Linked DNA regions of Homo sapiens. The protein of the gene in region 3 interacts with the protein of the main gene of each other region in a pairwise test. Each region holds a gene or a part of one and is shown on either strand. Other genes may lie near its edges.

Region 1 (7,023 bases), on a different chromosome or scaffold from region 3:
GCTCCTGCTGCTTCCTCTGCCGTCTGTGTGACCTGGTTCAGGATCCCTGAGCCTGGGCTTCCCTGGCTCATCTGATTCGGGCTGTCAGTGCCTCATGTGAGCTTCTGCTCTGCTGCTCATCACCTCACTTTCTCAGTTTTCCAGTTCCTAGGGGATCACAAGGATGATTCCAATTCATCTTTCAAACTGTTCTTCAGAAGGCATGGGTCAGAGGTCACCGTGCATTGGCTCTGTGTCAGGTATCTGCTCCCATTTACTGATGTTTTAGGTTTGTAGGAGTAGAGTCATGTGATATGGAACATGGCCACTACCTTTTTAGGAGGTAAATGGACAGAAAACGTTCCCATGAGAGATGGTATGAGAACTTCGTAGAACTTTCTGTATCAGTAGTCTACTTTGCCCAAACATGACTACTGCACTCTAAGCTATCATTTAAAGAGATGTTCCAACCTCAGTGGCACATCAGAAACAGTGTACAGCCATCCAGTTGTCCCTCAGCATCCACATATAATTGTTTCCCGGACCCATCCCCCTGAGGATATGAAAATCTGTGAACACTCAAGTCCCTGATATAAAATGGCATAGTATTTGCATATAACTTATGCACATCCTCCTGTATACTTTAAATCATCTCTAAATTACTTCTAATATTTACTACAATGCAAGTACTAGGTAAATTGTTGCTATACTGTATTGTTTTACAATTTGTATGATTTTTATTGTTGTATTGACATTTTTTGTTGTGTTTTTCCTAAATATTTTTGATCCATGGTTGGTTGAATCCACAGATGCAAAACCCAGATAGAGAGGGCTGACCATACAAGCTAAGGGAAAGAATACATGTTCCTATTGCTGAACACAAGACCCCCTGCTGTGCAGTGATAATGCAATCTTGATAATAATAGCAATAAAAGCCACCACACATGGTGGCTCATGCCTATAATCCCTGCACTTTGGGTGAAGGTGGCAGGAGGATTGTTTGAACCCAGGAGCTTGAGGCTGCAGTGAGCTGTGATTACATGACTGCACTCCAGCCTGTATGACAGAGCAAGACTCTGTCTCAAAGAGAAAAAGAAAAAAAGAAATGCCTTTTATTGGTTTCTTATTATATGCCACACACTTCACATACATTGTAAGTCATTCTTCTAATAGTTCTAAAGGATGGACACAAACATCTCTATTTTACAGAAAAAGAGACTTCTAGGAGTTTCAGTAACTGGTCCAAAGTTACCTTGCAAGAAAGTGGTAAATACTCAGGTCACTCGGACTCCAACACCTATGTTTTTCTACTGTATTATGCTGATTTTTTAAATTTTAACAAATATCATTTAAAGAAACTAAGACAAGAAATAGATTCTACTTTATTTACATGGATATTAATCATTTCTGCTGCTCTTCCTCTGTTTCTGAAGTTTAACGTGCACTCCGGTGTCATTTCTCTTTAGCCCAAAGAACTTCCTTTAGCATTTCCTGTAGAACAGGTCTGTTGATAACACATTCTACTCTTTCCTTCTTCACAAATGGCTTCACCCTACCCTTCTTTCTATATTTTCACCACGTGCAGAATTTTAGTTGAAGGTCTTTTCTTTCAGCAGCTTAAAAATGTTTTCCCACTGTCTTTTGGCTTCCATCATTCTTGATGAGAAAGTTAGAGCCTTGGGATTATTTCCCCATATGTTTTATGTAATGATTTTTTCCTCTGGCTGCTTTCAAGACTTTTTTTTTGTTTAGAGTTTTTGGTAATTTTATTATTATGTGTCTTGACTAATTTATAGGAGTTTATTCGCTTTGGAGTTTGCTGAGTATCCTGTATCTGTAAATTTGTGTTTCATCACATTTGGAAAGTTTTCAGGCATTACTTTTATGAATATTTTTTCTTCACCAATATCTACGGCCTCTGCTTTAGGACTCCAATGACACAAATGTGAGAACTTCTGATATTGTTCCACAAGCCTTTGAAACTTCATTTATTTTGTTTTCAATCTTTTTTCTTTCTGTTTCTCATATTGAATAATTTTTATTGCTTTATTTTCAAGTTCACTTACTCTGTCCTCTCTCATCCCTGTTTTATTATTGAGTCCATTGCATGGGTTTAATTTCAGATATTGTGTTTTCTAATTCTAAAATTTATTTTTGTAATTTATAGACCTTATAATTTCTTTATATTTATTTCAAGAGTATTCACCCCAGTCTATAGAAAATGGTTCTAATAACTACTTTCAAGTCTGTCTGATAATTCATATATCTAAATCATCTTTGGTTTGGCTGTCTCTTTGATAATTGATCAGATTTTCATTATTGTTGGTATATCAAGTAATTTCAGGTTGTATCCTGGACACCTTGAATTTTATGTTGTCAAAATTCAAAGTGTTAAATTCAGTGGAGAATTCACTGTTAAAATTCTCTGGATAATGTTGATTTTTAAAAAATTTGATTATTATTATTTTTTCGGCAGGCAATCAACCAACCCAATCTGTCCCTTTCTTCTGTGGTGGCAGTTTCAATTTTAATTCATTTTTCAAAGTCTATGTGATGCTGTTTGTGCTGTGCACCCTGGGGCGCACACCACTCAGGGCTTGCTCTGGAACCTGGACGGTCTTCAAACTGTAATTTGGTTCTTAAAGACTTTGCTATGCTTCTTGGTCTGTTTCCTGTGCATGTGCAACTTGGGGGTGTGCTTGGTATTTGTGTAGGTTCAAACGTGGAATTTTAGAGTCTTTTCTTTAGCTCTTTTCTCTGTGGGATTTTCTTTACACCCTCTGGCTCCTCGGACTCTTTTTCCCAGTTTCTCTGGCCAGAAAGGTTGAATTCTGAGTTCTGGCCTCCTGCGCTGTGGCACAGTTCCATGCAGCCATGACACATAGCAAGCAGCAAGAGAAAGGAGAAAAAACATAACCATGATTCCTCCCTCCTCTTTGCACAATGAGGGTTCCTTTTTGTGATTCCTCTATCTAGAGGGTTGGGTCATCATTTGGGATTTTAAGTGCCCACGCCTCCACTGGGGCAGCAGTGCAGACCTGTATTTAAAGCTGATCTGGAGGCAGGACTAAGGGAATAAAAAGAGGAAAAAATAAACATGGGGATTTACTCTGGCTTTAGGGGGCTATTTTCCTAGATTTCTAGGAAATGAATTCAACTAAAGATTTTTGCTATTCGCACCTTTTACACAGTTCCCCATTCGCTTGCCTTCAGGCCAAATCCATGAGGAAAAAAGAAGAAAATCAGATAACTTTGCAACTTGATCTCTGTTAAGACTTGACTTTCCTTCTCACTCCACTTGCTATTATTTACTTTCAGTCCTTATATGGTTGCTTGTCATACTTACCTAGTTTTAGTTGTGATCAGTACAGTCGTAGAATGGATTTCTTATTCTCTGAGCTGCTTCTTGTTGTTAATGATTATACCCCTAGCACTTGGCACAGAAGCTGTCCTGTGAAAGATAACCTCAACCTATTTCTAAATGAAATAAATGAAAATGTAAAATGTGAGACTCACCAATTGCCTAATAAACTATGGTAGGACAAGGACAGCAAATATTTGGCCACACTCTGCAACTCGTAATTTCCATACTCAAAGCTGACATTAGTATCTCTTCACTGCCCTGTTCCCTGCTGAGCCTGAATACAACTGCAGAATATTGTCTAACACAGCAGCCCTGGAAACCATGCCAAGTGGCCAGCACTGGTATGGGAAGTGAAAGCCTATCATGTATTCCTGTTTTCAGGACTTGGTTATTCACATAAAAATCCGAGCCTTCCTTTTCCATTTAACTGAAGTGACTCCTCTTCTCAAATTTCCATCCTCCCATCCTCTTTCCTGTAAAACTCCAGTTGATTGATAGATTTCTTCTTTGCCAGGAAGGCTTCTTGAGAAAAAAAAATATTCTTTTCCTTCTTATCAAGTTGTATATTTTCTTAAAATATAACTTGACTAATATGTTTCACTGAGCGTTCCCCCATCTATACTATCAAGAATTTATTTTAGCTTTTTATCCTTTTGGAAATGATGAAATTGGTTAAGATTGGTAATTATCCAACTCAAAAATGATCGTTAGAATTCCTTTTTGTTTGATTACCATATATCACCAAACCTACTATTTCTTACCAGCTGTTTCCATTAATTTAGCCTTGCTTGTCCTTGACTCCTATAGACTCCTATACTTCTCATTTTGAATCTAAGTGAAAATATTAATAGAAAGAGGTAAGCCTTAAATACATCTGATTTAAATTATCAGATTTGCTTGGAAAGCATAGCTAAACGAACTTCTTTTATGGTTTTGCTTGTCATTTTTTATTGCCTTAGACTGTTTTCTATAGAGCCAACAATCTAAATAGAAGTGGATATTTTTGTTGTGGTTAGGGGCTTGGGGTGACTATTATCAGCTCTCAGAGATAATCATGGTACAAATATATCTTAGAAGAAGATGTGAGGTAGTGTTTGTAAATAATGTGAATGCATTTACATGTGTTTGGACATTCGGTATGAAACACTTCTAGGCTACCCAACTGGGTACTTAAATGGGAGAACTCTTTAGAAGCAAGAACCTTAGGTCTTCTTGCTTCTAAAATGGAAAATCGTGATGGAAAAAAGAGCTCCCACAGTATATTAAGCATGTGTGTGGTACAAACATTGAGCAAGAGGAGTTGATTGAAGGTCACCAGCTTGGACATCACTGATTCCAAGGTCATCTGATAAGATCTCCTGTTTGTTCAGACCCATCCCTGGCATTCTATCTAGCAGTGCCATAGCTGAAATTAGAAAAATGAAGATGAAAGCAACTGACTGTGACAATCTGCTGTGTACACAATCTAAGTGTATTTTTCTTTCTTTTCTCTTTTCCTCCTGGGGTCTCCAGTTTACCGTGGTTTCTGGGCAGTCCTGATGCTCCTGGGGGTAGTTGCTGTAGTCATCGCAAGCTTTTTGATCATCTGTGCAGCCCCCTTCGCCAGCCATTTTCTCTACAAAGCTGGGGGAGGCTCATATATTGCTGCAGGTACGTACGGTGCAATGGGTATGACTTTCAGCCACGGTTTTTCTTCATGTCTTTCTATTTTTCATTTCTATATTCAGGCGTCAGCCTTCTAGTAACAGTAACACAATAATATTTGTATACAATACTTCTTGAACACTAACTAATAATATTTGTATACAATACTTCTTGAACACTAACTGTGTGTCGGACACTTTTCAGGGACTTTCCCTTTTCCACATGCTGACACATTTAACCATCATGATAGTCTCTGCTCACTGTAAGGCCATTATTATAAAGAGGAGAACACTGAGGCTTAGAGGAGAAAACTCTGTCACTGACTCACTCCAAGGTGTGTAAGAGACTGTTAACCTCTTACCCTATTAATTTTCTGTCTGTAAATGGGGATCGTAACATAAGTCTCTGTAACATATCAGCATATGATATGGGTAGGCATTTTCTGAGCTCTTCAAAGATAGCCCTGTGATGATATTTATGATAAGCATACACTCATGATTTATCATAGGTACAAAAATATTTTTCTACATCACTCCCATTCATTTTCTTAATTGTTTGTTGATGCCAGGTGTGGTGGCTCACACCTGTAGTCCCAGCACTTTGGGAGGCTAAGGTGGGTGCATCACTTGAAGTCAGGAGTTTGAGAACAGCCTGGCCAACATGGTGAAACCCTGTTTCTACTAAAAATACAAAAAAATTAGCCAGGCGTGGTGGCATGTGCCTGTAATCCCAGCTACTCAGGAGGCTGAGGCAGGAGAATCACTTGAACTCGGGAGGCGGAGGTTGCATTGAGCGAGATTGTGCCACTGCACTTCAGCCTGGATGACAGAGCGAGACTTTGTCTAAAAAAAAAAAATAATTAATTAATTGTGATCCATATGAATTATCTGAATATATTATTTTCTGTGTGAAGCTTGCATTTATTTTAGTTAGGTTTCTAACTAATTTAATTTCTGCTAAAATGATCACACTACAAATAGAAAAGTAATTGAAGAGGTGAGTCTTGTGAATTTTAAGCCCTTTTCATTTAATTAGGCAGTGAAAGCCAGACTATTAACTTGGAAACATAAGCACAGGCTATTATTTGTAAAGATAATTCTAGAAAACTAGCCAAACTTCAGTATGACTGAGACCAAACTGTACATACTATGCTGTATTGTAACATCAAACCAGAGTGACAGAGTGCTCCTAGGTGACACTGTAGTGACAGTTGAAGGAAAGGAACAGAATGGAGAAGGTTACTGTCCTTCTAATCATTGGAAAGATGGCTTGTGATGCTGCCCAGTGTCATTTCATCAGTGCTCAGGTAACACAATACTTTCTGCATAAGATTGTGCTTAATTCTGCAGAGGGAATAAAAATAATAATCAGATCTAGATCCTGTATTTTGTAGGGGCCAAGAGGAACAGAAGGTTCCCTGAAAAATCCACTTGGAAAAGGCAGATTAATTGAAGAAAAGGCATACATATAATTTCATGTGTATACCTGGGAGCTTTCAGATTGAAGACCCAAAAAGATATGGGCAAATTGTCCATTTTTATGCTTAGGTTCAACAAAGGATGGGCAGCTGTGTAGAAATATGATTGGACAAAAAGGGCAGGATCTAATGGTCATAGACTAAGTGGGGAACCCAGCGAGGCCTGTCCGTTTAGCTTCTTCATGGCTTCACTGAGCAGCACGCCTTCCTTCTGGGTGTGGGGCGGGACCCTCTCTGGAATTGGCAAACAAGGTAGGTCCGGTCAATTCCTTTGTCCTTTGTGGCCAATTTTTACACAGAAAGGTGGAGGGAGAGTTAGAGTAATATGTTCAGGTTTCGTGGCTGGCTTTGGGGAAAGGAGTTCTGGTTTCTATGATTCACCTTTGTGGAGAGGGGACCTTTGTGGTTTCTAAGGCCAGCCTCGGGAGAGAACAGGACTGGGAGGCAGGAGGGCAGGAGAAGGTCAGAGAAAAACTTTTGCTCCTGAGGCTGCTGCTGGGGCTTCATTTTGGAGTTTTGTTTCCTGAGCCCCAACAGTTTAAAGAGCTAAAAAAAAAAA
Region 2 (7,433 bases), on a different chromosome or scaffold from region 3:
CACCTAGCTGAGATCCATGGCCCAGCTGGCCAGAGGTTCCACCCTGTCTCCTGGCCCACTAGCAGCCTCCCTCCCTGCTCCTCTGCCCTAGGAGCCTAATTGGCTTGGCACCAGCTCTGGCACTTCCCTCCAGCTTTGTAATAAAATAGGTGGCTTGGGTCAGATTTCCCTGGCAGGGAGGCTACCTGGCACAGACGCAGGAGGCGGGGAGGAAGGCTGGGGAAAACGGCTCCTTCAATGACCACCAGTTACAGCCTGGTATTCTCAAGGGGCCACTTCCTCTCCAAGAGGACCAAGAGTACAAGAGCCCTATGTACTTGTCTTTCTTCCTTTCCTAGTCCTTCATCATTCATTTATTCCAATGCACTTACACATGCATTCATTCATTCAATATTGAAATGTTTACTATATCCCAGGTGCTCAATGGTGATCACCAGGAATTGGCAAAGTTTTTCTGTAAAGGGCCATCTAGCAAATATTTTCAGCTTTGTGGACCAACCTATTCTGCTGTTGTAGCAAGAAAGTAGCTATTGATAATATGTAAACAAACGGGTACGTGTGCTATGTTCCAATGAAACATTATTTGTGGACACTGAATTTTTTTTTTTTTTTTGAGACAAGAGTCTCACCCTGTTGCCCAGGCTGGAGTGCAGTGGCATGATCATAGCTCACTGCAGCCTTGATCTCTCCAAACTCAAATGATCCTCCCACCTCAGCCTCCTCAGTAGTTGGGTCTACAGGCACGCACCACCATGCCTGGCTAATTTTTGTATTTTTTTGTAGAGATGGAGTTTCACCATGTTGCCCAAGCTGGTCTTGAGCTCCTGACCTCAAGCAATCCACTCACCTTGGCCTCCCAAAGTGCTGGGATAACAGCCGTGAGCCACTGTACCTGGTGGACACTGAAATTTGAATTTTATACCATTTTCATGTGTCATGAAATATTCTTTTGATTTTTTTCCAACCATTTACAAATGTAAAAACTATTCTTAGCTTGTAGGCCATACAAAATGCAACGTCCAGTGGGCCATTACTTGCCAGCCCTGAGCTGAGTCCTCCATGGGCAAGACCATGGAGTATGCAACTCCCAGTGGAGCGTGCAGGCCAGTATCTCCAACAGGGTCAAGACCTTCAGAGATCCTCACTGGGGAGAGGGAATGCCTCCAAGCCTACCACAGCTCGACTGCTGCAGCCCTCCCAGACTCCACTCTCTCAATGCCACATATGTTCTCTGTGGCTTACATATAGGGACTCTTAGGTCTCCTTTACAATCAGAAGCTTTTTTTGAAGGGAGGAACATTACTGTTCACGCATTTGGAATCAGAAGGGACCCGAGTTCAAATACCTCCTTGACCATTCCTTTGCTGAATGACCTTGGATGAGTTACGTCACATCCCTGTGCTTCAGTTTCCTGATCTGCAGTCCCTCTCTCATAGGTTATTGACAGGATGGAGTACACGCATGTAGAGTGCTCAGACAGGTGCCTGACATGGAGTCAGTGGTCAATGTTTGTGGATTCTCCTCACAGTTCCTTTTTCCCCACCCACCCCAGAACCCAGCACGGCTCTGGGCTCTGCTCAGTCCCTCCTTGCCAAGTGTTAACTTCCAGAATAAGAGAAAAAGTCCCTGGATTCCTCACCCAGGAGCCCCACAGAGTCCATACCTTGGGGTCCTAGAATGCTTTGCCCTTTAGACTTAGCTTGGAGCATTTCCCCTTTGACTTCTTTGCTCCTAGCAAAATGATCACTTCTTCCCTCCCAAAGCAGCTTACATGGATGCCAGGCTTAGGAGTGTGTGCACATGATGAACTCTTGGCTGGTTCTACTCTGGGGATGAGCTGTAGAGGAGGAGACTGCTTGGCTGGGAATAAAGGAAGTGGGAGGCTGTCTCACCTGCTGGCCCACAGTCCAGGGGGGTGGGAAGGCTGCCCAGGTCAAGGTCTTTAGCATCTCAGCCATTATGCCAAATACCTGGACCCTCCAGCACTTTCTCTATTCTCCAAGTACACTCCTCCCCAGGTGGGTGCCCAACTCACTCATCCTAAAACAGCACCCCTCTCTCTCTTCCAAAGCCTCTAGGATCTTACCTGGTTTCATTCTTTCGTAGCACTTAGCCCTATGTGAAATTTTATTTGTTTGTTAGAGTTTTTTTCAGTTTCCCTTTCACTAGAATTTAAGCTCTCTGAGGGCCAGACTTGCCTGAAACAATCCTTATGACTATTTTTACAGGACAGATAATATCCCTATTTAGTAGCTGAGCATACTGAGGTCACCCAGTCAGTGAGTGGCAGAATGAGGATTCAAGGTCAGTTCTCTCTGACAGACAAAAGCTCACATTCTTGGGCAGGGTGCAGTGCGGTGGCTCATGCCTGTAATCTCGGCACTTTGAGAAGCTGAGGTGGGCGGATCACTTGAGTCCAGGAGTTGGAGACCAGCCTGAGCAACGTGGGAAAAACCCATCTCTACAAAAATCACAGAAAAAATCAGCCAGGTCTGGTGCTGCACGCCTGTAGTCCCAGCTAATCGGAAGGCTGAGGTGGGAGGATTACCTGAGGCCAGGAGGTGGAAGCGGCAGTGAACCAAGACTGTACCACTGCACCCTAGCCTGGGAGACAGAGCGAGACCCTGTCTCAAAAAAAAAAAAGAAAAGAAAAGAAAAGAAAAGAAAAGAAAAAGAAAAGCTCACATTCTGGGCCTCCACACTAAGACAGAGCTCATTTCACCTGGGAAGATGGGAGTGATAGGCTTTGAGTTCCACAGTCTGTTTCCAGCAGCAGTAGCAGCAGTCATGTGTCAGGAGACATTTATAGGAGCCCTAAGAATGTTCTGTACCGCTACTTCAGGAAGCAAAACCAGGCAGGCTGCACTTCTGCCCTCTTGGAGCTCATGGGCTGATTATATAGAGACACATATTCTAGTCTTTCTGCTATAATGCAGATTGCATTAGGAACTATAAAGGGGTACAGAGTATTTTAGGGGTACTGTCTTGATTTGCTTGGGCTGCTGTAACAAAATACCATAGACTGGGTAAGTCAAAAACAGAAATTTCTCTCACAGCTCTGGAGGCTGGAAGCCCAAGATCAAGGTGCTAGCCAGTTTGGTTCCTGTTAAGTGTATGTTGGGCGCCTTACATTTTACAAAGCCTTCTTCGTGGTTGCAGACAGCTACATTCTTGCTGTATCCTCAAATAGTAAACACAGAGATCATTTTTCTGACATCTCTTTTTATAAGGACATGAATCCCATTATGACGGCTCCACTTTCAGGACCTAATTACTTCCCAAAGGCCTTACCTCCTAATACTATCACACTGGGGATTAGGCTTCAACATATGAATTTTGAGGGTACACAAACATTTAGTCCACAGCAGGTACCAGCTGTGGTTGGCCAGGAAAGTCAGGACAGTGTGGTCTAGGAGGGCAAGGGGTGCTGTCAGGGAAGACACTTTGGACAAAGAGGGTGGAGGAGCAAAGGCCAGTGAGTCACCGCCTGTTTGAGGACCAGTAAGGACTCGGAATGGCTATGGCCTAGATAGTGTTGGGAAGGGCAATGATCGTGTGAAAGGTAGTAGAAGATAGGTTGGGGCCAAATCATGTGAGGACTGAAAGAGATTGGGGAAAGACTGGGCTTCCTACAGCCTGCTTGGTAGATAATAAGAACACTGACAGAACAGCAGCTGATTGTGTATGTTGGGCGCTTTACATTTTTTTACAAAGCACTTCCAGTCCTTCTTCCACTCTGCCCTCACAATTTCTAGCATACAGGCAAGAGTGATAAGTTTAGGATCAGGAGCCTGGTATCCACTTAGTCAGGAAACAAGTTGTGTAGATTCGAACAAGTCACTTCCCATCTCCAAGGCTTTACTCATCTCTAACCACAGGGGCCAATTCTCAGAGCTTTCGGAAGGATTTCACAAAACCATACACATAACAGTGCTATATCTAACTTCTGGTCCTCAGTTCTTTCTCTGTTAAATGAGGACAATTCCTGTCCAGCCTAATTCAGAGGGTCTGTGGCTGTGATTCTGTAAGCAAAGGTCAATGGTGAGAATCTTCTTAACGGGCCAGTGAGAAGTTTGTTCCCCTTTTGGCAGATGAGGCCAGGAAAGTTAGTGCTTCTTGGTTGGTGGCTGAAAGCCTCAGAGAAGGAACTTTGGATTCTTTAACGGTATCTCTTAGTACTCGCCACACTATTTCGTTTATACGGGGAAGAGAGGGACAGACAGCGCACAAGCGACAGACAGCGCAAAACCTACCGAAATAGAAAGAGCCAGGCGCCATAACAGACGGCCCGAGACAGGCCCACTTAAAGGACCAGAACTTCTCGTGCCCCGCCCCCCTCTCTCAAGGCCATCAATCAGACAGCGAGGCGCGCCGTGACGCCATCTTATCGCGACTAAACGGAGTGGCGGCGGCATTTCCTGGTGTCTGAGCCTGGCGCGGAGGCTATGGGCAGCCAGGAGGTGCTGGGCCACGCGGCCCGGCTGGCCTCCTCCGGTCTCCTCCTGCAGGTACTCTCTGCCCTTCAGGTTCCAGCTTGTACTGCAGCCGGGATTCGCGGGATGGCAGCCCTTGGGCCCTTGAGAGCCTGCCCCAGGGCCGACCCAGTCCCGAGGTGGACCCCGCAATGGAGGGGGTGGGGGGGTCGACCGGAGACGGTGGCATTGATGAGGGGGGACCCTGGCCCGGAGATAGGAGCCTGCCTTTAGAGTCTAGGCCGGGTGACTGCAGACAAGCCGCTTTCCTTCTGAGCATTCTATTTCCCATATGGCAGTAGGAGTGAATTAGATCAGGTGGCGGGGGTGAGGGACTGGTATTTCGTGCTCGAGAATCTGATATTTTTCAGGCAAGGGGTTCATTTCCTTCATCAAACACCTTCCTCAAACTTTGAGTCCCACTGAGTTCCGAGAGTCCATATGGCATAGCTAAGAAGAGAAATCTGGAGTTAGGCTTGGATTGCTCCGTGACCCAGGACAAGTGACTTCACCTGCAGAGCCTGAGTTCCTCACTAGTAAAATGGGGGTAATAATATGTCGTACTTAGCTCATAAGCAGGGATTGATTGGGATCATTCAAATAAACGTACTTAACACAGTACCCGGCTCTTAGTATGCATTTAATACATGTTGGCTGCATCTTCTGTTTATGTGATCTTGGACAAGTCACTTCCCTTCTTGGCCCTAATTTTTGTCATCTGTCAGGTATGATACAGGCCAGTTAGTCCAAATGGTATCTGAAGATTCTTTCAACCCCAGGAGCTGAACCTCTTAAGTCAAGTGGCTCAGTATCTCTCTGTCTCACTCTTGAGCCAATCAACCCTACTTCACACAAGTCCCGAATCTACCCTACCCCTTATCTTAGAGAGGCACATGGAGGGCAGAAGAAAGAACCAAGCAGAATGGGGCTTGAGTTTGGGCCTTGTCACTTGCTAGATGCCTGCCTTCGGGATAAATCCGATGACTTCTGTATCAGTTTCTTCATCTTAAATGAGAATCATAGTGCAACCTCACAGGGTCATTAGGAAGATTAGATGAAATCATGCCTCTTAAGTGCCTGGCACACTACAAGTACTTAATAAATGTAGCTATTTTTATTAGGGTAATAAGTATTTTTAAAATAGTCAATGTAGGAATGAAATGAGATAACCTATGGAAAGCATGTTGAAGAGTGCCTTGCACGTGATATGTGCTTAGTAAATGTTAGCCATTCTAAGTTTACCTAGGGATTTTTTTTTTCTGTTTCACTACATAAATAACTGAGTTTATTGTTTTATCCACAATGTTGGTTTTTTTTCAGCCTTTGATAATATCTTACTACTCAGATAGGCTTCATAAAACGAAAACAAGTTATAACGGAAAACACACTGGACTACGAGTCAGGTGGCTTACCTGTAAGGTCAAGCTGGGTCATTTACTTGCCGTGTGACAGTGAGGAAATCACTTAACCCTCAGTCTTGCTTCCTGTGCATTTACCTCGTTGTTTTTAGTGTCAAATAATTTAACAGATGTGAGAGAGCCTTTTTGTTAAAACTGTAAAGTTGGCTGGACGCGGTGGCTCATGCCTGTCATCCCAGCACTTTGGGAGGCCAAGGCAGGAGGATTGCTTGAGCTCAGGAGTTGAAGACCAGCCTGGGCAACATGGTGAAACCTTGTCTTTACAAAAAATACAAAAATTAGATGGGCGTGGTGGCATGCACCTGTAGTCCCAGCTACTCAGGAGGCTGAGGTGGGATGATCTCGAGTCTGTGAGGTTGAGGCCTCAGTGAGCTGTGATTATGCCACTGCACTCCAGCCTGAGCAACAGAGTGAGACCCTGTCTTAAAACAAAAGCTGTAAAGTTCTTTGCAGAAGTAAATGAAGGCTGTGTTGCTAATAAGGACTGCAGTGTGTGGCAAATACTGGGTGGCGTAAGCAACCTCAGTTTCATTAGCTGCAACCTTTATTCAAACCAATTAGGAGACATGGATATGGCCTGGAACATTAAGTTTCTTAGACAGTGGTAACTTTGAGGTTAACATAAGTATGTACACATGGTGTTTTGTTTTTTGTTTTCGAGATGGAGTCTCACTCTGTTGCTCAGGCTGGAGTGCAGTGGCACTATCTCGGCTCACTGCAACATCCGCCTCCCGGGCCCAAGAGATTCTCAGGCCTCAGCCTCCCAAGTAGCTGGGATTACAGGTACCTGCCACCACACCTGGCTAATTTTTGTATTTTTAGTAGAGACAGGGTTTCACCATGTTGGACAGGCTGGTCTCGAACTTCTGACCTCAAGTGATCCACCTGCCTCAGCCTCCCGAAGTGCTGGCATTACAGGTGTGAGCTACCGCGCTCGGATTTTTTTTTTAATAACCATATTTTTATATGGTTTCTTGAGTGTTTTCATTCTTGTATGCTTTCTCGAATTACACTGTAGACACTTCAGGTAGCTTTGTGGTTACATTTTATTCTGCAAGAATTTGAGAGCTTGTTCTATCTTAATTCTAAGCCACCTATGCTGAAAGTATTAATGCCTTTCATTTGTATGCACTTAAAAAATGCTTTCACTTCTACAGTCTCATTTCTTTTAAAAATATTTCTTGTAGAGATGAGGTCTCACTGTGTTGCCCAGGCTGGTCTCAAATTCCTGGCTTCAAGTGATCCTCCTACCTTTCAGCCTCCCAAAGTGTTGGGATTTTCTTTTCTTTTTTTTTTTTTTTTTAAGATGGAGTCTAGCTCTGTCGCCCAGGCTTCACGCCATTCTCCTGCCTCAGCCTCCCGAGTAGCTGGGACTTACAGGCACCTGCCACCACACCCAGCTAATTTTTTGTATTTTTAGGAGAGGCGGGGTTTCACCGTGTGAGGCAGGATGGTCTCGATCTCCTGACCTCATGATCCGCCAGCCTCGGCCTTCCAAAGTGCTGGGATTACAGGCATGAGCCACTGCGCCCAGCTAAGTATT
Region 3 (7,925 bases):
TCAAAGCTTTATTCTTTATTAAACAACAACAACAACAATCTTAGTAATTCTAAGGTTCAAAACTCAGTAAGGGTCAAGTGAAAGACACTGTCTAGGGGCAAGAAAGCTGAATTCTGTTCCTGGCACTGCCACCATTGGACTATCTGATCTTTGGCAAGTCACTTAATCTGCACTTAATTTCCTCACTCACAAAGGAAGGACGTTCAACCAGGCCATCTTTAAAGCTCCTTTTAGAAGTGGAATGTGATGATTCTATAATTAAAAAGCACAATGTAGAAAAGTGAAAAACTAGTAAACAGGAGTGATAATTATCATACATCTTAAAGAAATGGAGTTTAAACTCTTAATAACTTTTAATGATCCAGGTAATTTAATGATTCACTTAAAAATCAAGCTTTTAAGAAGTATAAACTACAATAAGATCAACTTGTGATTTTACATTTCCAAATGGTGAATTTAACTACCCAATGCTTTAATTTTGAGAAATTAATGCTTTAATGTTGAGAAAAGGAATGCTGCCATTTTAGATATTTTCAGATTACTCACTGAAGTAAGACTTAATTTATCCTTTAAAATGGGGCCATCTATAAGGTGCAGTTCAACCTAAATGTCATCTTCTAGAGACCACATGTAATAGCCCTATGAAAAAAAGGCTGGGCAATGCCAGCCAGTCAGCACGCCAGCCAGTCAGCCACATAAATAAATTGCACAATAAAATTTGTAACAGAAAATTTTGAATAAAATTATTAATAGAACACAAAAAAATGGAAAGAACAATTTGCTTAAGAATGGCAGCCTCCTGAAGCAACATTTACTGTTTAAATTGTTACATTTTCCTAAGTTTTATAAGTAATAATACGATTATTAATCATACTTTATTAAGATTTAAAGCATAAAAAGTCATTAACTCATAGGGCATAAAGATTTCCATGAGCTTGTTACATTTTATGTATTTTATTTCCTTAAATGGTTATGGGATTTTCCAAAAGCATACACACAATTCCTTAAACTTTGCCAACTTAGAATTAGTTACATAAAAATCACCCTTCAGACCGTATGGAATCCCCTAGACAAATCTACTCAGCCTTTCTGTGATAGGTTATCTGGGTGTGAATTCCACCACCACCTCCCCCTCGTCCCCGCCCACAAAAAATATATTAAGACTTGGCCCAACTAGATTTTACAGGCGACAGAGATGTAAAGAAACAATTTATGGCTTGCACAATTATCTAAAATTCCCGCAAACAAGCAGTTCCCTAAGTAGTATGTCATAATTTTCTTATCTATGAGTAGAAGCACGTGCATTTATTTATATCCCTAGATTAACTTCAAGTCTAATTTTACTGCCAGTAGTATCCAGGGGTGGATTTCTTTGTTCTAATTACAAATGGAACTTGAGCTAGATCAAAGGCATTTTAAGAAGGTCAAATTTTACTTCTCTGAAAAATAAAGGGTGTTATCCCATGTAATTAATTAATGCTTAGCCATGCCCTTTGGCGCATTATCCGGTGGCTGCAGAAAACCAGAGCCAGCCGTTCCCACCTGTTGGTGCAGTGAAACTTACTTACCCAAAAGAGCAGATTGAGGGCGTAGAGCAGGCAGCGCAGACACTTCACGGAATCTTCTCTGGCCATTGTGAGCCCCGTAAGGGAGAAGCCCCATCCTTTCACCACATCCTACTCCCAAGGGCAAAACGGCAGCGATCTGCAGGGGGCGGGGGAGAGAGAACACGGGACATCTCACCATCACGCTTCCCACAGCCTGCCCGTCCCTCCTCCACCCGCCCTCAGCAGGGTCCAGAGGGTCCCGAGGCCCAGTGCATTCGAGACATCGCCTCATCAAAAATCATTTGTTAAAATCATAATGGTAACTAAACTCCCAAAAGTTCCAAACCGGCTTCAGATAACACCTGCTGGGAAAAGAAAAGAGCAACTATCCGGATGAATGAAGTCGCACAGTAAACTCGCGTTCTCAGGGGACACGCGGCGGAGCCCTGTGCATTCTGATGAGACGCTCTTGAAAACCTCCCTCACTCCACGCCCCTCCTCGAGGACAGCTGTGCTCGGCACTGTCCTGAAGGTGAGAAACCACACTGCCCCCTACCCCGGACACGTCAGAGGCGCCACCGGCAAGCCCGAGAGAATGAGCGCCCTTCTAGTTAGGACAGTTCCTGGGCACTCCAACTCCGCACCCCTCTACCCCGTCCCGCAGCTCGGGTGTGAATGCAAGGGACTGGGGCGGCGGGGCGGGGGCGGGGGCGGGGGCGAGGGGGCAGCGCGGAGTTGAGATTCCGCCCGGCTACTAGGGTTTCTCTGGGAGAACGTGAGAAATGATGTTTTCGGCCCCAGAATGATGGATTAGCCTGGGACAGTGGGCGGGGGGCGGGGGGCGCCGGGGAATTAGGGCCGATGCAGCTGTGCAGACGCCGGGTTAGTCATTCAAACCCCGCTTCCCCCGCCCGGGACGCTCCCGCGACCCCTCGCTCAAAGCCGCCCGCGGAGCACAAAGCGAGCGCGGCCACCGACCCAGCCATCGCGTCCGCGCGCCCCCGGCAGGGCGCGAGGGGAAGCGCCGGCGGCAGGGAGCCCCAGAGCCAGCCCTTAAGTAGTTTAGCACACAGCGCGGAGGGCAGCCGCCGGCGGGCTGGCGGGACAGCGGGCAGGAAAGGCGACAGACGCGTGGCCACTTACCGTCGGCGCTGGGCCCGGTGCCCCACGCCCGCCTGGGGATAGTCGGGGACGCACGGCGGGGGCTCATCGGGGCAGGGAACTTCTTCGCGGAGAGCCGGAGGGCTGCATTGGCTTCAGCTGGAGACGCTTCTTTCTCTTCCTCTCCCCCCGCCGCCGCCGTCGCCGCCTCCTGGGAAAAAGAAAAAAAAAAAAAAAAGTCCTGGGCAGCAGTTGCTGGAAAGTCTCTGCTAAGCCACCTCCCAGCGCCGCTGTCCCTCCCAAGTCCTCTCCGAGTCCGGACGAGGCAGCGGCGGCAGCCAGGGCCAGCTGCACAAACTCTCAGCGCATGCTCGAGCCGCTGGCTGCCGGGGTTGGGTCCTAGTGGGTGTTTCTTGTCCCTCTCACCCAGCGAGAGTCCCCAAAGGGACGCTTCACCTCTGCAGGATAGGGTCCAGAAGATAATGCCTAGGAACTTGGGAGAAGTCCGTGCAGTAAATCCCTTTAAAATGGTGGCGTCGAAGGAATGGAGGCTGGGTTATAAGCATAGAGAAGCAGGCTTTTATTATATGATAATATTTGTGTTTGAGAAGGGGGGTGAAGGGGTGGCCCAACCCAATTCCTGCAATGAGAAACTAGTTTTCACAACCTTTATGGAGCCACCTCCTGTGATTTGTTATTAACATGGTGCCCTATGATCCTTCTTATTGCTTTGTTGCCCTCCCGGATTTTTTTTTTTTTAAGTTCTTTCCCACTTTCATAGTGCACTAATAGCATTTACGGAAACATCAGAGTAATCATGTGCAGTCTGACATGCAGAAGAGGAGGAAAGAACATTTTTAACTCTTAGAAGTAACTCAAGCTTTCCAAAATTTCTCACGATAAGATTGTTTTGAGTTAACTGGGTGATTTATTTTGAAATGTGTACATAGTAGTGGATCTTTGGAAAATCTAATTTTTTTAAACTAGAAATTCATGAAGTATTACACAGCAGGAGACCATCCTTCCAAAAGAATCTTCCCTTTTAGAAGACAGAAGTTTCACACTAAATAAAATGCCACTGGATCATATCCTCCACATAAAATGTGGATGTGTTGTGCTATGCCTCACAGTACTGCTCATTTCTAGGATTACTTTTGTGGGCACTGCATGGCAAATAAAACTTCACCAGCAAATATGAATTACCTGGAATACGAGCAACATCTTTGACCTAATAACTGGAGTCCTTGGATTTCCTTGCAGAAAAAAAAAAAAAAAAAAAAATGGAATCCTATGTCCATGACTGCCTGTCTAGAGTTAGTTGCTGCATGACTGGAGTGACAATAAGACATGCAGTCTCATATGGAAAAGTCAAGACCAAAAGACAACATGGTTGTCCTGGGTTAGGCTAGGAAAATTATTGGTAAGCAAGTCACTAAGCAGTATGTAAGACAGCAACCCAAAAGAGTATAAAGAAGTATAGCCATACACAAAAAAAACACCAAGAAACATGTCCAGTTATCCATCAGATGACTCCAACTCTGATAATGAAGCAGCTTCTAGAATACTGGGGAAGAGCAAAGAAACCCACTTTTATCCTCTGCCAGTTTCTTCTCAAATTAGGGTGCATGCCTATTTTAAGCAAAGGACTGCTGAAACAACCAGCCATCCAAATGCTGTTGGTGCCATACATTCCCCGGAGAGGTATAAACATCCCCGCATTGAAAGGAGTCCATGACTGCTATTAAAACTGAGAAAAAGAGTGCCAACAATTCCCATGTGTCAAAGCAGAGATCCTCTTCTACTCCTAGAAGGTAGTTAAGTGCCCTTTCCTTAATTCGTATACCTTTAAGGGTCAACTGCCTTAAAGTAATAAAATACTAGAGGAAGTTACTTTAGAAGTATGCATGTCCTCTTCTTCCTGGTAAACAAGAAATACAGATCCAAGATAAAGTAGTTGCTCAACGTCACATCTGTAGTCCAACCTAGATTCCAAAGTAAAATCCAGAATAATGGCTCTTAGTACTCTAGTTTAATGGTTCTCGAAATTGTTGTACACGAGAATCACTTGGAGAGCTTTGAAACAACCCTAATTCTCTGGCATGCCTGATACCACTTAAATCGGAGTCTCTGCAGGTGAGGCCTAGACACACAGGGTTTTCCAAGCTCCCAAGGTAATTCTAGTTTGCAGCAAAATTTGAAAACCCTGCAACGAGGGCTTTACAGCTGCCTAAAAACTAGCAAAAGGGTCTCTTTAGATTTCGTTGGATCAAATCCCTCTCCTGTGAGTCGATAAATTGGGATTATTATCCCCATTTTACAAGTTAAGAAGAAAACAGAGCTGTAGTTACTGCTCTAATATTCCTGATAAATGGTCATCAGAGACAGTGAATCAACATTTCAGTAGAGGAGACCTCACCACATTTGAGACATTGCAGTAATGGGCAGTTTTTATTGCTTAAACTTGACCATACCACCTTTTAACTTCTACCCTTCAACCTTAGTTCCGCCCTTGGAGTCCATGGCATGAGCAAGCCTTCCTCCCATATGACAGCCCTTCAACTACTTGAAGGCAGCTGTTCTTCCCTCCCTCTCCAATTCTTCTCTTTCCCAGAATTGTGGAAGCACAGTAAGACTTCACATCGCAGCTGTCATTCTGAGGGTTCTATATTTTTCTCTGTGAGATCTGTTTTTTTGTGTGTGTGAACAAAAGGAGGATAGAAATATCATAATATGCACATAAAAATTTGAATATGTAATAACATATTAGGAAAATTGTATGGTCTATTTACTACCCATTAGTCAGGAACCCAATTCTGTGGCCAGGTGTTCTCCAATAAGTATCATTTCAGTGGTGGTATCTACTGTGCCTCATGCTGAAGATACTAAGACAAGTTCTTACCCTCCAAGAAAAGGCAAAACTATCCTTTCTTATTATATAATAATAATAACAATAATAATGACATCAAAAAGTAATAAAATAAGCATTTACAAGGAATCACATACATGTCAGTCCCAGTGTCAGGAGTAAAACTCAGCTATATGTAAGAGAATACAAGTTCCTCACTCCGTATGGCAGCTTGTTTGTTCATATCTTATTCTATTCATTCTGCTAAAGTTGTGGAGAGAAAAAGGATAACACAGGAGTTTGGATGTATGAGTTGCTATTCCTTCTTAGTACAAGACCCTCACAAGTACTCCTAAGCCAGTACTTTACAATTAATATGGGATAGACACCTAATGTGTTTTGAACAAATTACATGTGTCTGACATAATAGGTGCTTCTCACAATTTATCTTATTAATTCCTCATAACTATATGTTGAGATACTTGAAATCAATTCAGATAGCTGATTTTTGCCAGACCCACACAGGTAGTAAATAAAGAAGCTGAGATTCTAAGATCTGTCTGATTCTTTCCACTGTTTATCTGCATTACAATAAAATTTCAAATCTGGTTGGACAAGACTTAAGAGGAAAATTTTCGAACTTTTTAAAGTTAGTTTTCGAGAATATGAAGCTGAAATTCAAATATGTGTACTTAAACTATGACTGGTAAATCTACTTTCACCTCACTTCTAAAAGAGTATACAGACCTAATAAGACCTGAGAAAATCCTTTCATTACTGAATTAAGTAGACTGCTTTCTACTGTAAGCTTAGGATTGCCAGATAAAATACAAGACACCTCATTAGATTTAAATTTCAGATAAACAACAATTTTTTATTTTTTGGTATAGGCATGTCCCAAATGTTGCATGGGACAAATATTGCACTGGACATACATATACTAAAAAATTATTCAATGTCTACCTGAAATTCAAATTGAATTGCAAACCCTACATTTGTATTAGTTGAATCTGGCCTCCCTATGCAAACTAGCAAATGCACTCAAAGAGCCACAAAAACAAATATGTTTCACATAACAATGAGTCCAGGAATAGCGATTCATCTGCCCAGTAGTGATATCAAGGAATCAGTTCTTTTTCCTCCTTACTCTCCTGACACACACAATGAGTAATCATACTATACTCAGGTACCTCCTCTTATGGTCACAAGATGGCTGTGCAAATTCAAGCATCATTTTCAGTTACCATTACTTCCAAAGGAAGAAGGTATTTTCTCCTATGAGTTTCTCTTAGGATCTAGCAAACCTCTCCCAGGAGTTCTGCAGCAGATTATCCCTTTGATTGATTGGCTAGAACCTGGTCACATACTCATATATCTACCAATTATTCACAAGAACTATGGTTCTACCATAACTGGTTTGTTTTGTTTTGTTTTGTTTTGTTTTGTTTTGTTTTGTTTGAGACAGAGTCTCACTCTGTCACCCAGGCTTGAGTGTAGTGGCTCCATCTCTGCTCACTTAACCTCTGCCTCCCGAGTTCAAGTGATTCTCATGCCTTAGCCTCTCGAGAAGCTGGGACTACAGGTATGCACCACCACGTCGTGCTAATTTTGTCTTTGTAGAGACAGAGTTTCACCATGTTGCCCAGGCTGGTCTCAAACTCCTGTCCTAAGGTGATCCACCCACCTCAGCCTCCCAAAGTGCTAGGATTACAGGTGTGAGCCACCATGACTGGCCAGGTTTTAAACCAATCAAGATGTATTACCTGTGCCTGGGACAGCCCTTCTCTAAAGCACAGGGCCAAAGAGAGGAAGGTAGATAACTGAACACAGTCAGATTTTTATTTGAACTGAGGGATAGAGAAAGGAAGGCATAGTACCATCCTCTCTCCTGTTCACTGCTAGGACAACCCAGCTCTCAGCCAACCATTTTGGGGCACTACTTAGCAAAGTTTCTTAGTTATTGAAAGAACCACTGAAGCAGGAACCTCATGGCAATAGCAAAGGACCCTGAGAAAACTCGTATCACATCATTTCCATCCCATGCCATAAGCTTACTTTCAGCATCGTCATTTGCATTTACACACCAGGTAATTCTTTAAAGAAGTGCCCAAATCAGTACCCTCCTATGAAATCCTAGAAAACTTTTCTCTTAAACTTTATTGAAACCTGACCTTCATGCAAAGTTTAGAAATTTGGACTCACTTCACCCACAGATTTAATAAATATTTATTGAATTGTTACTACAAACTCAGAACTGTGCTAGGAGATACCAAGAGTTCTACCATAATTTTGGCTCTCAAAAATTTATAACTTCATTAGCATGCTTCCTCTTCAGAAAGCAAAATTTATAGAATATAAGAGATCTTTTGTCCAGACTTGGTGGCTCATGTCTGAAACCCCAGCTCTTTGGGAGGCTGGGCCAGGAGTTGGAG
Region 4 (7,023 bases), on a different chromosome or scaffold from region 3:
ACATGTTCTCACTTGCAGAGTGAACTGGGAGCTACACATGGACACAAAGAGGGGAACAAGAGACACCAGGGCTTGAGGGTGGAGAGTGGGAGGCTGGTGAGGATTGAAAAACTACCCATCTAGTACTATGCTCACTACCTAGGTGACAAAATCATTTGTACACCAAACCTCAGCAATGTGCAATTTGCCCGTGTACCAAACCTGCACATGTATCCCCTGAACCTAAAACAAGAATTGGAAGGAAATGAGAGACAGAAGACTACAAAGGATCTTAAAGTTTAAGCATTATGAAAAAGAGCCAGAATTCTATCACTCCACCCCACCCCCCCAATAATTATTAGGGCAGTTTCAGAACTCCTGAAAGATACAAAGAACAAGATGGATTAGGAGGGACCTAGAGCAAATCCTAACAGGAGGGAGCTCAATTCACAGGGTTTACAATAAGGCAAGCAATAAATCCTGAAATTTGGGAAATCTCAAAGAGTAAAAGACAGATAAGGATTCCAGGAGAGGTAAGGAATTCGGATTTAGGATACTGCAGGCATTTACAATACTGCAGTCCTGAAATGTTGAAGTCTCCAAGAGCAACAAACAGACAACAAACAACAAACAGATAAGGATTCCAAGTCACACCTGGTTAGAATCTGCATCCTGCCCTGGGCACGGGAACAAAGGAATAGGAGATTTCAAGCCTGAGTAACCGAGTCATCTGGGATTTTATCGCAGAAGAAAGAAACTGAAGGAGGGTGGTAAGAGTAGAATGAGAGAATTCAGATTTGAGACAAAGTCAGTTTGTGTGGACTGAAGGGCATGCACCTAGGAATGTCTTGTAGACCACTGAAACCACAGGACTAGCCAGGCATGGACTGTGGAGATATGGCTCTGAGAGTTGCCCACTCAGGGGTTCGGTGTCAATGGCAGACATCCTCTCCACATCAGAGACCCAGGGGCAGAGAGTGTTGCCCGTAAATCCCAAGTCCCAGGAACTCTCAAAACCTCAGCAAAGTCTTTACAGAGAAGCCCCAAGCTGGCCCTATGGAGACCTTAATACAAAGGAGCTTCTGCCAAAGACAACAAATCAAAAAGATGTCTGACTTTGGTAGGACAGGTCAGGTCCTTCCACACAGACAGCAGTGCTCATGAGAACCACAGTGTGGCATGAGGCTGTCCCTGGGGAGAGGCAGGCGGGAGAAAGGAAACTTCACAGAATACCCTTTGCTGCCTACAAATTCTGCACCACAGACTGCCTACTCAAAATAACACCATAAAGTTTAACTTTCTTCAAAAGGTCAGTCAACTTAGTGGGCTCAATGCCATCCCTACTGTTGGGGCAAACAACATGAGAACAAATATCAGTGACTGGCATAGGAAGCTGCCCGGTGGGGACCATACGTGGGGGTGGGGAGGGGGTGCCTCACTATTACCCCAGCCAAGTAACCACCACATGACAAGACTTGGAAGGCAGGAACCCTGCCCAGTGCCAGGAACAAATTAGCATTCTTTCAAGGAGACTTTGGCAAAATTAATAGTGAAGAGTCAGTGTCCGTCTCTTTTCTGAACCAGAGGCAGTATGACACACAAACAGCTGTACTTTTTCACCCCCAACAGCCTCTAGTGCCAGTCCAGAAGGGCTGGGAGACCTTAACAACATAGAATGTAGCTTAACAAACTGTGGAGAGGAATCTCCTCCACCTACGTGGATCCTAGAAAAGATGGAAAAGTGTGAAAACCAGAAACAGTAACACTCAAATCTTTTCAAACAGTTTAAAGGATGATTATCTGCCCTGTGAAATTAGTTACAATGGCCGGGCACGGTGGCTCACGCTGTACCAGCCCTTTGAGAGGCCGAGGCGAGAAGATCGCTTGAACCCAGGAGTTCAATGGTCAACATTTTAAGACCCTGTCTCTATTATAAAATAAGTATGTATATATTTATATATATAAATTCAAAAAAGAAATTAGTTACAAGATTCATTTTAAAAAGAGTTTCTCAAATATATTCAAGATTATATAATTTCTGGCAGTTGTAAGGTTGAGAATAAAGTGAGGGAGGAGAAATGCTTTACATTAGTAGGACAGTGCAGGTTTTATACAATCTTCTTGTTTATCAAACATATTCTGAATGATTTTATCAAGTATTATGTTCCCATATCCATCAGCTGTTAGACTCTCATGCTCATTTTCTACCTTACCAATTTAAATATGCAGTCGGCTGGGTACGGTGGCTCATGCCTGTAATCCCAGCATTGTAGAAGGCCAAGGCAGGCAGATCACCTGAAGTCAGGAATTTGAGACCAGCCTGGCCAACATGGTGAAACCCTGTCTCTACTAAAAATATAAAAATTAGCTGGGTGTGATGGTGGGCGCCTGTAATCCCAGCTACTCGGGAGGCTGAGGCAGGAGAATCACTTGAACTCGGGAGGCAGAGGTTGCAGTGAGCTGAGATCACGCCATTGGACTCCAGCCTGGGCAACAAGAGAGAAACTCCATCTCAAAAAATAAATAGATAAATAAAAATAAAACTCTTAAATATTATTGATTTAAAAAAGATTGTATTATTTCTTTAAATCAGTAGGGAAAAAATTGATTATGTGGAGTCAAAACAGGCAATAAAATTCTGAATAATATCCTTATGAACACTGATAACACCAGCCCCTCTCAGAAATACAGACACCGTCCATAGCAGACCCTACAGTCAGTGAATGTTCTAAAGAGAAGCGTTGAATACTGAATGACTGCTTATTACTAGAACAAATGGTTCTCATGCTAACAGTCATTAACTGGAAAGCATTTCTTCCAAGCACCCTCACCCACTGCCTGGGTAAGGCGCCTTGTGGTCTTCAAGCACTGCGCCGGGAGTGCCTTTCAAGGATACCAGAGTGGCCACTCCCAGGAAAGTGCTCACAAATGTCTAAATCACAGTCATCCGATAACCAGGAAAACTGAAACTAATCAACTTTCTCTATAAAACACATACATTTTTTTCTGCAAAGAGTCTCCACATTTACTCTGAGACCTTTTTAACATTTAACATTTTGAAAGATTTATATAGTATTTTTTTGATTTTGTAGCCAAATAAGAAAAATAGGTAACATTTGGGTATCATATCTATCAATGTTAATCAATAAAGAAGCTTTTAAAGTCTGTAAATTAATTCTATGAGAAAAAAATAAAAAACAACAACCGGGAATTAGAAGACCTTCATAGGCCAGGCGCGGTGGCTCACGCCTGTAATCCCATCACTTTGGTAGGCCAAGGCGGGAGTATCACCTGAGGTCAGGAGTTCGAGACCAGCCTGACCAACATGGAGAAACCCCATCTCTACTAAAAATACAAAATTAGCTGGGCGTGGTGGCATGCCCGTAATCCCAGTTACTCAGGAGGCTGAGGCAGGAGAATTGCTTGAACCCAGGAGGCAGAGGTTGCGGTCAGCTGAGATTATACCATTACACTCCAGCCTGGGCCAACAACAGCGAAACTTCGTCTCAAAAAATAAATAAATAGAAGACCTTCATAATACGAACCATTCTGTATCTAACCAACTAAGTCATCTTGAGCTAATAACTTAAACTCTCTGAGCTGTGGCATCCTCTTCTATAAAATAACTACCTCAAGCCGGGTGCCATGGCTCAGGCCTGTAGTCCTGAGCTACTCAGGAGACTGAGGTAGGAGGATGGCTTGAGCTCAGGAGTTTAAAGCTGTAGTGAGCTATGACTGTGCCACTACACTCCAGCCTGGGCAACAAGGTGAGACCCTGTTCCTAAAAATAAAAAACACCTTTAAAGTCCCTTCTAGTCCTAACAACCAAGGAGAGCAATTTAACATTTTTTAAAGATGATAAAAATTCTTTTTTTTTGAGATGAAGTCTCGCTCTGTCCTCCTGGCTGGAGTGCAGTGGTGGGATCTCGGCTCACTGCAAGCTCCGCCTCCCGGGTTCACGCCATCACGCCATTCTCCTCAGCCTCCTGAGTAGCTGGGACTACGGGCGCCACCACACCCAGCTAATTTTTTTTTTTTTTTGTAGTAGAGAAGGGGTTTTGCCGTCTTAGCCAGGATGGTCTCAATGTCCTGACCTCGTGATCCGCCCGCCTCAGCCTCCCAAAGTGCTGGGATTACAGGCGTGAGCCACCGCGCCCGGCCGATAAAAATTCTTCTAATGAAATACCATGTTAACCTGGGCAAACACAAAACATTTTTTAAAAATAGATTTTGGAAAAACTAATTTTAAATAGTCAAAAATCATGCAGTAATTGAGTTTTTAAAATAAAATCATACTGTTTGAGCAACAAAAATAAGAAACATAAAATAATTGGTTATATGAGAAAATAATCTTTCACCTCCTCTCCCTGTTAAGCCTGGGAATCATAGTTAAGGTTTACTGATTTTTTTAATTCCTAAATTATTTCTCAACATAAAAAAATTTTCTTGAAAAAAATTAAGCATTTCTCTTATACCTGAAGTAGTTATAGTTCTTTAATATTTTATTTGAGTAGTTCAATCTCAAAGTCTATTGAAAACCATTTTTAATTATAAAAGAAGGTAATTGCATACAACAGTGTTCAGTGGTCCTTCTACAGTTAAAGCCTGTGATTCGGAGTACTGAAAAATTCCACAAGAAAATAAACCAAAAAGAGGCCGGGCGCGGTGGCTCACGCCTGTAATCCCAGCACTTCAGGAGGCCAAGGCGGGTGGATCACCTGAGGTCAGGAGTTTGAGACCAGCCTGACCAACATGGTGAAACTTTGTCTCTACTAAAAATAAAAATATTAGTTGGGCGTGGAGGTATGTGACTGTAATCTCAGCTACTCGGGAGGCTGAGATGGGAGAATCACTTGAACCCAGGAGGCAGAGGCTGCAGTGAGCCAAGAACACATCAATGCACTCTAGCCTGGGTGGCACAGCGAGACTCCATCTCAAAAAAAAAAAAATTAAAATTGAAAATAAACCGAAGATAGGTCATAGAAGGCTAAGTCCTTTCTATAAAACTTTCCTTAAAAGGTAATGAATATGAATAGGTTCTACAAATATATATAACTTGAAGATTTAATCACCTTTCAAGTGTGTAAGATGAATATTAAAGTTTTTTCTATAAAAATCTATTTTAATCAGTAGCAACATAGCTAACATATTATGTGACAAGCTCTGCTGTCAGCCCATACATACGTTTAATCCACATGAATATCCTGTAAAGCACATACAATTTTATGACCCCCATTTTAATGATGGACAAACTGAGGCTGCCACAACTTCCATGATCTACTCAAAGTTACACAGCCTTTATGTGGCGGAGCCCAGGCTCAAGGTAGATGTAACTGACCCAAGCCCCTGCTCTTACACGCTATCTTCAGTTAAGATTTAAACTCCCCTTTCTAAATGATGTCACTATTTCCTCTCCATATGGGTTTCATCTATCTAGAAAGGAAGCCTTGAAATAAGTAAAGCTCTAATTTAAATAGCACTTCAGCAATTAAGTAAAGCAGAAAACCCCAGAACCTATACGCTAACTTCCGAAACAAAATCTCCTGAAATGCCAACTCAATCATAAATTTTAAGATGCCAATCTTTCAGACCATATCTCATCCTTTGCTTTCCTAAGCTCCATCAGAAAAATATGGTTGGGTAGGAAGAGGATCATTCCCAAAGCCTAAACTCCAAGTTTCTTAGTTTGGCAACTATACTGTGCTTTGGGACTTTAAAATTATAAGCACAGTTCCCAGAGGAGAACATTTCCTTTATTAGCAATTGGCTTTGAAAATTCCATTCTCAGATGCTAAATATAACAAAATACCTTCTGACTTTTATAAATAAACATGCTCCAGATTATTTTGATACTAATGATTTTCTATTTACAAGACAGTTTTGCCACAGCAGTTAAGCAACTGTAACATTTTGAGGAATCTTTCAAGTTTACTCCAGAGCTTTTTTTTTTTTTTTTTTTAAGACAGAGTCTTGCTCTGTCGCCCAGGCTGGCGTGCAGTGGCGCCATCTCGGCTCACTGCAAGCTCCGCCTCCCAGGTTCACGCCATTCTCCTGCCTCTCAGCCTTCCGAGTAGCTGGGACTACAGGCGCCCACCACCACGCCCGGCTAATTTTTTGTATTTTTAGTAGAGATGGGGTTTCACCATGTTAGCCAGGATGGTCTCGATCTCCTAACCTCGTGATCCACCCGCCTCGTCCTCCCAAAGTGCTGGGATTACAGGCGTGAGCTACCACGCCCAGCCTCCAGAGCTTTTCTTTTCTTTTAAGACGTTGTTTGGCTCTTGTTGCCCAGGCTGGATGGAGTGCAACGGCGCAATCTCGGCTCACCGGAACCTCTGCCTCCCAAGTTCAAGCGATTCTCCTGCCTCAGCCTCCTGAGTAGCTGGGATTACAGGCATGCACCACCACGCCCGGCTAATTTTGTATTTTTAGTAGAGACGGGGTTTCTACTAAAACCCCGTTGGTCAGGCTGGTCTCGAACTCCTGACCTCAGGTGATCTGCCCACCTCAGCCTCCCAAAGTGCTGGGATTACAGGCGTGAGCCACCGCGCCCAGCCTATTCCAGAGCTTTTAAAGCACTGACTTGAAAATTGTTCACTGGATTCTTCTACTATGAAATTAAAAAGTTCTTGTTTCATAATGCATTTCCTTAAAATTTATTATTTCTAATTTCCTTGGGTTCTAACACAAGAATATTGGCAAAGCCAAAGTCATGGAAGTAGGTGTTTCCCAAACTATGAAACAGAATAAATCAGGATTTTTTAAAAGTTTACTATGGGCCGGGCACGGTGGCTCACACCTGTAATCCCAGCACTTTGGGAGGCCAAAGTGGGTAGATCACCTGAGGTCAGGAGTTCGAGACCAACCTGGCCAACATGGTGAAACCTCGTCTCTACTAAAAACACAAAAAAATTAGCCAGTCGTGATGGCAGGCACCTGTAATCCCAGGTACTGGGGAAGCTAAGGCAGGAGAATTGCTTGAACACGGGAGGTGGAGGTTGCAGTGAGCCGAGATTGTGCCATTGCACTCCAGCCTGGGCAACA

What was found.
Region 1: the proteins of TSPAN12 (region 3) and TMEM182 interact in binary tests that used the Homo sapiens proteins (3 or more experiments, as listed by UniProt).
Region 2: the proteins of TSPAN12 (region 3) and RFT1 interact in binary tests that used the Homo sapiens proteins (3 or more experiments, as listed by UniProt).
Region 4: the proteins of TSPAN12 (region 3) and CDS2 interact in binary tests that used the Homo sapiens proteins (3 or more experiments, as listed by UniProt).

Annotation. Positions count from the first base shown.
Region 1 is NC_000002.12:102,793,008-102,800,030, forward strand, and holds part of TMEM182 (transmembrane protein 182 isoform a precursor), read left to right. Parts: intron 1-4,855; coding exon 4,856-4,993; intron 4,994-7,023. UniProt on the Homo sapiens protein: Negatively regulates myogenesis and skeletal muscle regeneration via its association with ITGB1. Modulates ITGB1 activation by decreasing ITGB1-LAMB1 interaction and inhibiting ITGB1-mediated intracellular signaling during myogenesis.
Region 2 is NC_000003.12:53,127,413-53,134,845, reverse strand, and holds the start of RFT1 (man(5)GlcNAc(2)-PP-dolichol translocation protein RFT1), read left to right. Parts: upstream 1-4,410; 5' UTR 4,411-4,445; coding exon 4,446-4,508; intron 4,509-7,433.
Region 3 is NC_000007.14:120,855,130-120,863,054, forward strand, and holds the start of TSPAN12 (tetraspanin-12), read right to left. Parts: upstream 3,016-7,925; 5' UTR 2,691-3,015; intron 2,080-2,690; exon of another isoform or gene 1,706-2,079; intron 1,705-1,705; 5' UTR 1,635-1,704; coding exon 1,569-1,634; intron 1-1,568. UniProt on the Homo sapiens protein: Regulator of cell surface receptor signal transduction. Plays a central role in retinal vascularization by regulating norrin (NDP) signal transduction.
Region 4 is NC_000020.11:5,130,008-5,137,030, reverse strand, and holds part of CDS2 (phosphatidate cytidylyltransferase 2), read right to left. Parts: intron 1-7,023. UniProt on the Homo sapiens protein: Catalyzes the conversion of phosphatidic acid (PA) to CDP-diacylglycerol (CDP-DAG), an essential intermediate in the synthesis of phosphatidylglycerol, cardiolipin and phosphatidylinositol.